4 separate regions of the Homo sapiens genome follow, and regions 1, 3 and 4 are each reported to be linked to region 2. Evidence: microRNA targets listed by miRTarBase, many of them from high-throughput screens and not tested one by one. Region 2 holds a microRNA gene; each other region holds the end of a gene's coding sequence.

What was found. Region 2 holds the annotated microRNA hsa-miR-5581-5p (AGCCUUCCAGGAGAAAUGGAGA, at 1,585-1,606, opposite strand). A microRNA usually pairs through its seed, bases 2 to 8, with sites in the 3' UTR of a target mRNA and lowers its output. Matches are read on the target gene's strand: a 7mer-m8 pairs with bases 2 to 8, a 7mer-A1 pairs with bases 2 to 7 and ends in A, and an 8mer does both.
Region 1: the mRNA of UBE3C is a reported target of hsa-miR-5581-5p. Seed matches in the 3' UTR shown: 7mer-A1 at 2,082-2,088.
Region 3: the mRNA of DNAAF9 is a reported target of hsa-miR-5581-5p. Seed matches in the 3' UTR shown: 7mer-m8 at 2,851-2,857 and 7mer-m8 at 1,951-1,957.
Region 4: the mRNA of RALY is a reported target of hsa-miR-5581-5p. The part of its 3' UTR that is shown has no 7-base or 8-base seed match.

The regions. Positions count from the first base shown.
Region 1 is chr7:157,267,226-157,270,321 of GRCh38, reverse strand. It overlaps UBE3C (ubiquitin protein ligase E3C), which reads right to left. Exons shown (of 23, transcript NM_014671.3): 23 at 952-2,737. The coding sequence ends at 2,567. Among named protein-coding and RNA genes, the nearest start is that of DNAJB6, 68 kb to the left of the region's middle.
Region 2 is chr1:37,499,389-37,502,484 of GRCh38, forward strand. MIR5581 (microRNA 5581) reads right to left here and starts at 1,606; the gene lies at 1,547-1,606. MEAF6 (MYST/Esa1 associated factor 6) reads right to left here. Exons shown (of 7, transcript NM_001270875.3): 5 at 2,416-2,608.
Region 3 is chr20:3,249,714-3,252,809 of GRCh38, forward strand. DNAAF9 (dynein axonemal assembly factor 9) reads right to left here. Exons shown (of 37, transcript NM_001009984.3): 37 at 1-2,971. The coding sequence ends at 2,859. Among named protein-coding and RNA genes, the nearest start is that of SLC4A11, 12 kb to the left of the region's middle. RefSeq lists an enhancer at 570-1,070.
Region 4 is chr20:34,078,108-34,081,107 of GRCh38, reverse strand. It overlaps RALY (RALY heterogeneous nuclear ribonucleoprotein), which reads right to left. Exons shown (of 10, transcript NM_016732.3): 9 at 2,555-2,603; 10 at 1-1,198. The coding sequence ends at 2,559. Among named protein-coding and RNA genes, the nearest start is that of MIR4755, 30 kb to the right of the region's middle.

The sequences.
Region 1 (3,096 bases), not on the chromosome of region 2:
GCATGCCACAGTGTAGCACTCCAGCATTCAGCCCGTGTTTGGGAAGTCTAGGTAATTTCTCATTAGAAAAACCTCCAGGTGAACCTGCTGTTCTGTGAGGGATGCACAGGGTGGCTGCGTCACTTCCTAGACTACCCTGCTAGTTGTGATGCTTGCTGACCCGGAGCAGGTGGATCTGAAAGAGCTGAGCATGCCCTGAATTTCTATTTGAGTTACCATATGCCTTTGGCTGTTTATTTCTTTCAAGTATGAGAAAGCTTACGTATTCAATTATTTCAGGTTCACCACTCACCTCCTCAGGAAGTTCCTGGAAGGAGTCATTAACCCCACCACAGCCTTTCCCGTGCTCCCAGTTCCACCACTGGAGGCCTGCATGTCAACGGCAGGGATACATAGAGTGTAGACTGCAGGCTCACGATGGGCAGGGATGCAGTATCTGGTTTCCCACACTCCGCAAAAGCACACACCATCCTGTAAACCACTGCAATCGATAAAGCTGCCTTAACGAGCTCAGGATACCAAAACAAAGATCTCTCTGCAGATAACACCTCATGAGAAGTATCTGCAATAACCCCAAGTCAACATTTAGGTTTGTGTACAAAATTACCAGAAAGCAGAAAGTAGGACAGAACGTAGAAAAGGGCAAACAAAACAAAGAACAAAGAATCTTCCTCCAGAAATTTTTCAAGAACTAATGCCAGACCCAATGGGAGACTCGGGAAGCCAACACCCGTGGCTGGTCGGATAGGAGCACACCGGCCGCCGGCCTGGGAGCCACGCTCGGCCCACCCCTGATGACAGGCATCCTCCCGAGGACCTCTGATTCTCAGTGAGTGTAGGCCATCTTACTATACTCCATTAGCTGGTGACATGCAAACACCTGTGATAAAACTAGTAACATTCAGAAGCTGTGCTAATCACAATGATTTGGGGTAGGACTCCAACACAATCTTGGGAAAAAAAACATTTAATGTAAATGTTTAGCCATTAGAACATACAAATAAATAAATAAGCTCAGAATAGCTGAGAAAAAAACCACAAATAAGTGAATTGTCAATTTCTCTTCAGTCTCAGATATGCTATTTCCAAAATACTAATAAAATATACAAATTAACTAATAAGATATAGAACATTCAACATAAAACAACCTAAAATAAAAAAGACCAACCCTAATTATTTTATTTCTGTATATCAAGACTACAAATAGCATTTAAACGCTTAATTTATTATTCAAATTAAGAAATTATACATTTTGTTTTGATAATGTTCATTGTCTTAAAAGTGTCATTCAGCTTTCCCACTTTAAAAGTATATTGCTAATTATGGTCAATTAACTATGACAGCCCACAGAGCCTCCAGTGACAGTAAAATACGAGACATAGAAGAGATAAATGAGGATTTAGATCCCCTCCCCCCAGCATCAGCAAAGGGTCACTCTGCTCCCACAGCTGACGCTTTGAAACGCTTTCTGTTTGTAGAGACTAAAATCACCCAGCAACAGGTCAGGTCCTGATAAAGTGCCTACTGCAAGAACTACCGACACTCCTCTTCCCTGGATGTGCACCAGGGACTGTCCCGTCTTCGAGTCAGAGCAGCACCAGGAAGCAGAGGGTGCCAAGCATGGCGAGTCACCCCCAAATATCCAGGAAGACAAGTGGGCGCAGCCCAGGGGAAAGGAGGGCGAGCGGATGATGGGAGACCGGCACGGCTAGCATCGGGACAAAGATGCAGCCGCCACTTTGGTTCAAACAACTTTAATGACACCACAGTGTCTGTCCTCCCCCAAGTAACTGGGTATAGTGGGTGACAGATGTTGCAGTAGCTTGGCAGACCCTCCTCCTCCACCTCCCCTGAAAGCTCTCCAGGCACAAAGTGGAGATAGAAATAGGACAATGAATGAAGTCCCCACCTCACATCCACAGACAGTATCTCCAAACCATCATGAGGCAGGCCACGGTATACTGAAAACAAGCATGCTAGTCCCATTTGGGGAAATGGCTTAAAAAGCACAAATAAAATATTACCATCATCATCTCTTTTCCAAACCTAACCACTTTGGGAAAGGCAGCAGAAAAAAAAAATGCCTTCAGTTTTAATAATGAGGCTTGTAAACAATCCAACCACATAAGCAGCAGCGGCCCCATGGCGTCTCAGCCCTCAGACCCTGTATCTCTGCCGCCTGTGCAGCCCTGTCTGAACCCTGGAGTGGCGCTGCCTGCTCAGGAGGGCTCTGATCTCACCAGCAAAGCCAAAGCTTCATCTTTGGTTAATTTCACTGAGATGCCACTAGTGTAAAAACTGTGCTCTTCTTGGCAATATTACTAAAGTAGCCACATGGCACATAACGTGTTATTTTAAGTTATTTGAAAAGCAATGTCCATCTAAATAAGTGACCACACCGTAATAAAAATCATTTAAAAAAGGAAGGGAGGGAGGAATGGCAGAATGAAAGAAGGAGCTTAGGAGAGCCTCAGGCGTGCAGTGTGAGTATCCTCGTGGGTCTGGGGAGGCGCTGCTGACGAAGGAAGCACTGGTTCTCTGTAGGGGTCTGACCCCAGCATCAGCTTCAGCTCAGCTCAAAGCCAGCGGCACATTCAATCGCATAGAGAAGTTTACTTCGCAAAAGTGTCTCGTCATAGAACTCGGGGAGCTTCAGCAGGTTCATGCAGGTGCTGGCTGTGGGGAGCCGCTCAAGGTCGGAGCCTCCGTTGTGAATACAAAATGCGGGATACAACTCCTGAAAAACAGCATGTGTGCAAGATGTCACTGTAACAAGCATGGCATTACATGAGTTTTAATACAAAGTACACAAAATGTGCCTGCTCCAATCAGTAAAGTTACCATTGCAGTCACATTTTCCCGAAACCACATTTGCTTTGTTGTTGTTGTTTGTTTTCTTTGAGATGGAGTCTAGCTCTGTCGCCCAGGCTGGAGGGCAATGGCGCCATCTCAGCTCACTGCAACCTCTGCCTCCCAGGTTCAAGCGATTCTCCTGCCTCAGTCTCCCAAGTAGCTGGGATTACAGGTGCCTGCCACCATGCCTGGCTAATTTTTGGATTTTTCCTAGATAAGGGGTTTCACCACGTTGGCCAGGAT
Region 2 (3,096 bases):
TGCTCTGTCCCCACCCCAATCTGCCAGCCCTACTGAGATATCAGTCAGCAGTAGTAAGGGACTTGGAGCAGACACAATTCCTGACTAAAGATGGCAGGAGTCCAAGAGCCTTAACTGACCGCTCGTGTGCCATTCAGGCACACTGAATTTTGCTTCCCTAGAAAGGAAACAAATCAGCTTCACTCTCCTTTCTTGGGGCAGATGAGTGCCTAAGGCCAAGGGAGATCAGCCAGATATTAAATCAGAGGGAAGACAAAAGGACAGCAATAAAAAGCAGGATTCTGCTTTCCAAACAGAAAACACTATTTGCGAAGCAGTAACTAATATCGAAGATTTTTACAACTACTACTATTTTTCTGGAAGGAGATAGCTCCTAGGATAGGAAGAAGTATTGTTCCTATGGAAATGTGCTAGAAACTTGCAAGAAGAAAATGAAGTTTAGCTCCTCTTTAACTCCTTTTTATCAGTCACCAGCTAATAACATCATTAGTGGAAATGAAGAACTACCTGAAATAAACAGCTATCTACAGACTATTAATCAGTAATGGGAAAAAGTCCCCGAAACTTTCAAAGAGTTTCCTCCCTACTCTAGACACTATGAAATAAGAAAATAATCACTACTTTAAAATGACACTAGGCCAGACACCGTGGCTCATGCCAGTAATCCCAGCACTTTGGGAGGCCGAGGCAGGTGGATCACCTGAGGCCAGTAGTTCACACCAACACAGTGAAACGTGTCTCTACTAAAAATACAAAAATTAGCTGGGCACAGTGGTGCACGCCTGTAATCCCAGCTACTCAGGAGGCTGAGGCAGGAGAATCGTTTGAACCCAGGAAGCAGAGGCTGCAGGGGCTGAGATCGTGCCACTGCACTCCAGCCTGGGTGACAGAGCAAGACTGTCTGAAAAAAATAAAAAATTAAAAAAAAATGACACTGGAGTAAATTTAATAAAAGCAATACAGAGCATGACATTTAATTATCTTGACAATTAAAAAAATTTTTAAGAATATATTTCTCTGTTATTCGTGATAAGCTAGCACCAGTCTTACTACAGTTGGTCAAATAACCTATAGCCTTTCAAAAATATATGAAGAGGTAGATATACAATTTTTGCTAATTCTTACTACAGTTATGCGATTAGGATGGTGACTTCTGGTTTGCAGAAAAATGTTAAGCAGCAGTCCTCAGTCATTATTTGAAGGAAATACTATTTCTGCAGTCTAGAAAACACCATTACCATCAACAAGAAAAACTCTTAAAATAATTGAAGAACCAGCTGACGCCAATCAAGGAGGTTCAAATCAGGTAGAGTTAATCCTACATTACCCCCAGGCACTGTCATATCCATGAAGCTAACAAGTTTAATACCTTGGGTGCATGAAGGAATACCCTACAGATTTGTAAACCAAATCCAGAAGCAAACTGGAGAACAGGGAATGCCACCCATCCCTTGCATTGCCCCCTTTCACCTGCTCAGCACGCAGTCTTCCAGGAGGAGTAGAACGAATGTACAGTTTCTAGAATGAGAACTCTTACCCTGGCTTCGGAACTTCTAGGAGGCATGGAAACAGGTATGTATAGGGTCTCCATTTCTCCTGGAAGGCTTGAGGCCAGCAAAACTCCTTACTCTAGAAACCGGACATTATACTCTTTAGGTCAAGCTGCATAATTTCCAATTATCTGAGTTAACAATCCCCAGCATGATCATACAAACCCCAGGCAGAGTGAATGCTGAAACCCTCTCTGGGTGACACCTGGCCTCTCTGTCCACTGACGTCATTCCTATCTCATTATGTACTGCAAAAAAACATGGTGCACCAATGTTACACGTTACCTATGAAGACACTCTCATATTTTACAGGCTTTATACTGTTCCTCCAGTATCTGAAGTCAGCATATTGCTGAGAAATACAGAAACAGAAAAATCACAAGCAATAAAAAAAACTTGTATTTAAAGAGAAAAAAAGGCATGTCAAATCAGTTCTCTCCATCCACAAAGAAATAAGAGTAGGCAAAGATCAGAATTACCAGCAGAAGACTTTATCCCACTTTACAGCTTCCCAATAAGTACCAGTGGCATTTTTCAAATACTATTACACAGATTCCATTTCTATTTCTCCTTTTCCTCTTCTAAAAGTATTCCATATTCACCATATGAAACAAGGTTTTTATGGAATAAAACTATTCTACACTAGAAACAGTGAGAAGAATGTCCTGGAGTCTTCCTTGAGGGTTACTCTAATGCCCACCAATTCCTCCCTTTGAGCAAATTAGCCCGTTCACTTGGACCTAATGACTTTCTTGCCATCAGCAACAGAAAGAGTCTGCAGCAATCCTAAAGAGTTTTTATTCTAGGCAATTCCCTTCACAGCAATGGTCATGGGAGCTGCGGGGGTGGGATCCCTGCCACTGACCTGTGCCGGTTTTTATTCTTTCGCTTTTTATGGCTGCTGTGGTGACTCCCTGAGGAAGTAGAAGAAGCAGCCTTCTGAGGTTTCACTCCCTGCACAGATCCATCCAGATCCTCAGGGTCCTCCTGGCTGGGCTCATTTTCCTGATTGTGGAAGTCTGGAGAAGTGTCACTTTCCGTCCCACTTCCTGGCTCCCCTGAAGGAAATAAAACACAAGTTTCCAAATGCATCATCAGTACTCCTCAGGCAATCTGTCCATCAACATGAACACTAATAGGTAGAAAAAAACCATTCCCTATCCTCTAATTGACAGAGAAGATACATGTTGACAGAGAAGATACATGTTGACAGAGAAGATACATACAAAGGATCCAAGTGACCAAAGGTCCTGAAAAAGCATGTAATCTGAAACAATGTAACCAGAGAGAACAGCTCTAAGGGCAGTTTTTGTTTTTATAGAGATGAGAGTCTGGCTGTGTTGTCCAAGCTGGTCTTGAACACTTGGCCTCAAACCATCCTCCTGCCTCAGCCTCCCAGAGCACTGGGATCACAGGCATGAGATACTGTGCCTGATCTATAGTCTTAAAAATATATATGTTTACACAAGTTGTTATTGAGTTTGCTTTTATTAAATGTAATCTACAGTGATGTACAAAAAAAACTACAGTGACTGTACAAAAAAAA
Region 3 (3,096 bases), not on the chromosome of region 2:
GTAGTTTACAATCTTTGAATTGAACTTTTCCCTTTTGAGAAGCCCAAGGAGCAACCCAGAGCTTCTTACTGTGCAAAAATTCTCCAAAATCCTAATAGAATTTAGGAGGGAACTTTTTCTTGCGACCTGAAGGGCCCAGTGTCCAGGCTTCAGGTCAGATAGCCCCCAGGGCTCAGAGGGGCCGGCTCAACTCCTTGCCAACGGCCCTTCCCTAGGATAATAATCCCATTTCCTCCAATTTCTGTCTCCTTCTTCCAATCAAAAACAGAAAAATCCCATGTAAAAACATAAAATAACCCGTAACTTCAGCGACTTCAACATTATCCCACGCACTCTGGGTGATATAAACTGAAGCTGCTAATAGGAAAGTTAGCAAAAAGCATGTAAGCCCCGGGAGGACTGCCTGTCCCTGGGAACCCACCCCCGCTCTTTGCTGGGTCCCTGGATCCACTTCTAAGGTCAAAAGCAGTGTCATGGCCATTCCTTTGGAAACAGCAGAAGACCCTGCTCCTCCCACCTGGAGCGCCGCCTGGAGGAATCAAGTGGATACTGACCTTCACAGAACAGAGAGGCCTGGCAGGTTCCAGGAGGCATCCCCTGGCCTCAGTCCTCAAAGAGCTCACAGTGCACCGCGGGTGTGCCTTATCAGTGGGGCAGAGCAAGTGGCCCCAGGAATGCCCTTTCGCCAGCTGCCCCTTCACGTTCCCGAGTAGGCTGAGGAGCATCAACAGAGGCCTCAGCCAGTTTTGCCTTTTTGGCTTTGATGCTTCTTCACGTTTTGACTTTTTTCAATCACAGTTTCATATTCAAGTTGAGGTAATCACAGTTTTTTCTCTAAGAGGAGAGGAGTTGGGACAGTGGGGCAAGTTGGTGAGAGAGCATTTCTGTGAAGAGAAACAAAGACCACCACGTAGTACAGCCCCACATGGTGAGAAGACCCGCTCTCACGGGCGGGCTCCGACCCCTCTTTAAAAACTCTTCTGCAGCAGCCAGACTGCCAGGCCAGTGCAGTCAGGAAATGGCTCAAGCTCCTAAAGCTAGAGCTTTCATTTAAAACTTCACAGCAGCCCACTTAGAGAAATGGCCTGTGGTTCCCACCCCCCAACCCCTTTTCTAAGGCTGCTCAAGTTTGAGTTTTTAAAAAGAGTTCGGTAGAGCTAAAGGAAGCTACAGTAACTCACTGCTTATTAATCAATTGCACTTAAGATCTATGTTACTGATTCTGAAGCGAGGCAAGCCCTTGACGGACCGCAGCCTCTGGCCAGCCAGAAGTCAGGGGGCTCCCAGACTTAGGTTCCACAGTGGGGCCCTTGTCATCAGTGGCTTTTGGAGCTGGGACTGGAGCACGTGGGTCTTTTCAGAAGCCCTTCTTGATGCAAAATTTCTTATCAATGGTATCTGGAGTTTTGTTCATTTGGCTTCAAATTGTTTTTTTTTTTTTTCTAATATATTTTACTGACAAGCCCTTGAGAGCTGCTTTGCTACTTGCATGCAGGCCTCTGTGTGACCAGGCACACAGACTACATGTGCTCCATCTTGTCTCTCCGCTGCTCCAGGGGCCTTGCTCAAAAACCCCCTATATTACTGGAAACTGCTGGTTTTACCTATGTGCTTCTTCCTAAGGCATGCAAAAAAAAATATGTGAAATTCAGAAAACATTTACAGTTCAGGCAGCTGAGGCACTGAAGTCCTAAGAGACATCACCTAAATATCAGTGGCTGTGACTCCCCTGTCCCCCACACCAATTATGAAGGTCAGGCATGGGACACACTTGTAATTCCCCTCTGCTTTATGGTCCAGCTTAAAACGATGCCATTAGAAGGAATTCTAACTCAGGTATTGCAATTATTTGAAATTCCCAATCCTCAGGAGCCACACAAGCCCAGGGCCAGCAACAACACTTTGGGGAGCGGGGGGATGAGTTTCCTGAAGTTTGTGGCTGAAAAGCAGGCCTTCCTTGGCAAGGCTTGTGGGAGCGCTGGGTGCTGGAGACTGACCCCACAAGTGATCAGCCACCAGGCCTAAGACTAACCAGCTGCAGGACGCCCCCTTCCACAGTGAGGTGAAGCCTCGCCAGGGGGCCTGAGCAGCAGGCTTGCTCTTGTCCCTACATTAGGACACCCGAATGGTGTGACAGGAGAGCTAAAGAACCACCCACAAGGGGAAAAGCTGATGTCAACTTAAGAGCCACACACCTCTGGAAAGCAACAAGCCTCTCCTTCAGTTTAGTCCAGAAGGGAAATCCCCTCATTTGTGAACACATCATTCATCTCAACCCAAGCTGCTGGCTCTGTGGACTGGGCCTGGGCAAGGCTGTGCTGCTCCTCCCAGGACTGGGCCCACGGCCAGTACGGCCAGCTCCTTCAGGGAAACGGGCCTAGCAGGGGAGGCAGGCACTCCACTGGGGAAGATGGCTCTCGTGGAGCAGCATCTGAGGCTTGAGGCCTGTCGTGGCCTCGCCTCCCAGACACGGCCACAGTTCAGGCAGCCAGGGTTCCTTCTAAGTCCCAGTAGCTCCTCTGTGTAATCCTAATGCTTCTCCCCAACCTCAAGAGCCCAAAGGAGATCCTGTTATCAGAAACCCAGAGCTCCTGGACTGCCAGTTGCACACGTAGACGGGCAGGCCCCATCTGCTCATCCTTGAGTATTCCCCCGACCCCCAAAATCAATGGTGCAGGTGATGCTCTTCAGCGCTATACAGGGAATAAAGACAACATGCACTCAAGCCAGCCCACACAGGCCAAGGAGAACAAAGACAGCCCCTTAAGGGAGAGGCCTCCAGCAGAGCTGAGGTTAAGACACCCGTTCGTCCATCTCCAAGGTGGACATTCTGCAGGACGTACGGGCCCAGCCTTCCTCTAGGGCTTCAGCTCAAAGAGGTCATGATACTCCTGCTGTTCCAGCTCCTGGTTATACTTCTCAATTTCCCGGTTGGCTTCTTCCACGTAGTCATTCATGAACTGGTCCATGACTGGTATCTCATTAAGGAAGAGAGCTCTGAGCCTGGAGGACAAGGGAGGCTGCCTGAGCCCAGAGCGGCCTGTAGGCAGGTGAGGGGGGTTTGCTGAGGAAGTGAGTGTCTGGCCCATAGAGAGG
Region 4 (3,000 bases), not on the chromosome of region 2:
CATTCATTGTGGGGAATGAAGGGGGAAGTAGGTGACATTAGCAGTACACAATGAGCATGTATAAGCAGCACACGTTTGAAGGAACCCGGCTGATTGTTAGAGAACAAATGTCTAGACGGGTGGCCCAAGACAGGGGCAGACAGGCTGCGTGTCTCCGGATGCAAACTTCCTACTGATTGCTGTCACTGGAGTACGCTCTATTCCTTGCTACCAAACCTGCCCGGAGTGTGAAGAACTTGTGTGTTTTGTGAGACTGAGATGTAGGGTTTGTGTCAGGGGCAGGAAAGGGGTGGTGACAAGAAACAGGAGAGGCTGGAGTAAGCAGGATCTTACACCCTACATTCAGGAGGTAGGGTTTTGTCCTGATGATGAAGAGTCAGTAAAGGGATTTTAGGCAGGGAAGGGATACGTTTCAGAAAGACTGCGTGGCTGCTGGGAGATGGTACAGGGCAGAGGCAGAAGACTGGGAGGCTGGTGGGAGGACAACGTCCAAATGAAAAAATTATAGTGTCCTAAGCCAGAAGAGAGAAGGTAGAGACTGGCAGACTCTAGAATCCTTTTAAGAGCTGGGAAAGACCAGACTTAGAAGCTGGGGAAAGAGATAAGGTCTTGACCTACTATGGGGTAAACCAAGTGGGTCACAACTGCTTGACACTTCAGCCAGCAAGATGCTCATGGGCCAGCATATCCAACCCTCCCCAGTGGCCCCACTGGCCATTTTAATCACCACTGAGGACACTAAGGTCCAGATGGATCAGTATTAGGCACCCTAGACCAGCTTTTTGGTTGGCAGAGGGGCCGGGATATCTTCATGAGAAAACACAAACCATCCCATCTCAGAACAGGTTGGGATCCAATCTCTTTATTGTCAGGGTCCCCTCCCTGTGGCCCCCCGCCAAACCTATAGAAAAAACCCAAGCCTGGGAGTGTCCTGGGGAGGGGAGGTAGTATGGGGAAACCCCTGTGCTCTACCCTCTGGCCTGGGCAGTGCAGACAGGGAGGGCTCATGGGGAAGGAGTAGGCCAGTAACTCCACCTGCAGAGGACATGGCACTGGCTGGGATGCGTTGGGGGAGGAGGCGCCTGCTGCCAGCTTTCCTCTGGTACCCGCTGGGGGGTGGCATCCAGGGTTGGGTGCCCGGCTTGAGGCCTGGGGCAGCGATGCCCTTCACCTGCTGGTGGCCATTGCTCCTGTCAGGCTGAGAAAGAGAGAGAGAGAAAGAAGAGACTAAGGCTGAGAGGAAGAGACCCTGTTGCTGATAAAAGGGGTAGGGAAGAAAGGGTGGAATGATGTCTGGAGACAGAGAGATTCTTGCACTCTGGCTGTGGCCTCATAATTTCCTGGCCATGTAACCTTGGGCAAGTCTCACCCGCTCTCTGAACCTCCATTTCCTCACCTGAGCCCATATAACTCACCTGTGAACTATTTTAACAAGCTTTGGAAAGCACCAGGCACAAAGGGGTGTAGCAGGATGGCTGGATATGGAGGTTTGTTTGCATCCCAGGCAAAACAAACCAAGAAGTTCCAAAAGAAGACTGCATATGTACAATTTTCTAAAGCTCTTCTGGAAGCCTTTGCTGGTGGGATATCTTACTACAGCATAAATGTGTCATCTATCCAGACACCTCCCTGGAAACACTAGTGTTTGAGACCTTCCTCCACCCAAGCCACCCCAAGGGAATGGGTCAGAGAGTAGTAGGCACAGCCAGGTGTGGCCTGGCTTTCCTTTAAGGTAGGGCAGAGTAGATGGTAAACAGTGGCCAGAGAGTGGGCTTTGAAGCCACACACCACTGGGCTGAAATCCAGGCTCCACCAACTACTACCTTATCTCCCTGCACCCTTTAGTGTCTGTTTCCACATCTATTATATTGGTACAATCATCAGCTTGTGGGATTGAAGATGAACTCAGAGAAAGCAGGTGCAGCTCCTGTCACACAGGGCATTTCCTCCCCATGAAAGAATCAAATCCCAGCCCCTAAGCCTGACACATACGGCCCTTCACAATCATCACCCTCTGACAATAAGCAGAGTCCTCTACCAACTAGGGGGGCACTGCAGCCACAGGAGGCTCTTGGCCTCACCACATACCAAGGACTGTCACAGCTCTGTATGGCTAAGGCCATTCCCCTGGTGTGGAACATTGCTCCCTCAATCACTAGCAGGCTCAGCTACACATCATCTCTTCCATGACCTGGCCTCGCTCTATTGTTATCCTGCTCACACTAGGTGGTAATGGCTTATGTCTTCCTCTACCAGACTAGGAGCTCCTCAAGGGCAGAGACAGGCAACATGGCTGAGTGTGCTGAGGGAAGGAACCCTTGCTAGGTGGGCCCGCCTGGCCCATCTACGGCACCTGCTTCCTCAGCATGGCAAGCCCCAAGCATGAAGGGGTGTGACGGGATGGCTAGATATGGAGGGGACTTCATTCTTGGGTATAGTCAGTGCTACTTGGCCAGGTATGCTTCGTGACACTTCCTGCCCAATCCAGGGAAAAGGCACAACCTCCACTTCACTGATTCCCCACCCTCTGCCCATCAGGACAGGACCCCTGTACCTGCTTACTGCAAGGCCCCATCATCCGCGTCTGTGTCCTGGCTGTGTTCCTGATAGGGAGGAGGTAAGAGAGACCACACATCACTCATTGCCAGCTCTGAGTCCTGCCCTGAGCCATTTGTCCAGAAAAACTTCATGGTCCAGAGGGCATCTAGAGGACACAGTCAGAAGACGCAGGAACAGCCAAGGGGAATGACTATGGGACCAGCCAACAAAGCTGGCTTGGGAACTTGGAAGGGTGGTCTGAGGACCCCACACAGGCCAGTGAAGGGTGTTCTGGGAGTGGCAGGAGCCCCATTTCTGTGCAGAGAGCCTGCACTGGAGAAGGCTGAAAGCCTTATAGACTGGTGAGCTCCCCATCTCTGGGGGCATCCAAGTCTTTGTTAGGGCCTTTATGGACACTGCTATGCCTGAGAAAATAAGATGAAGGATCAGGCTACGCTCAAA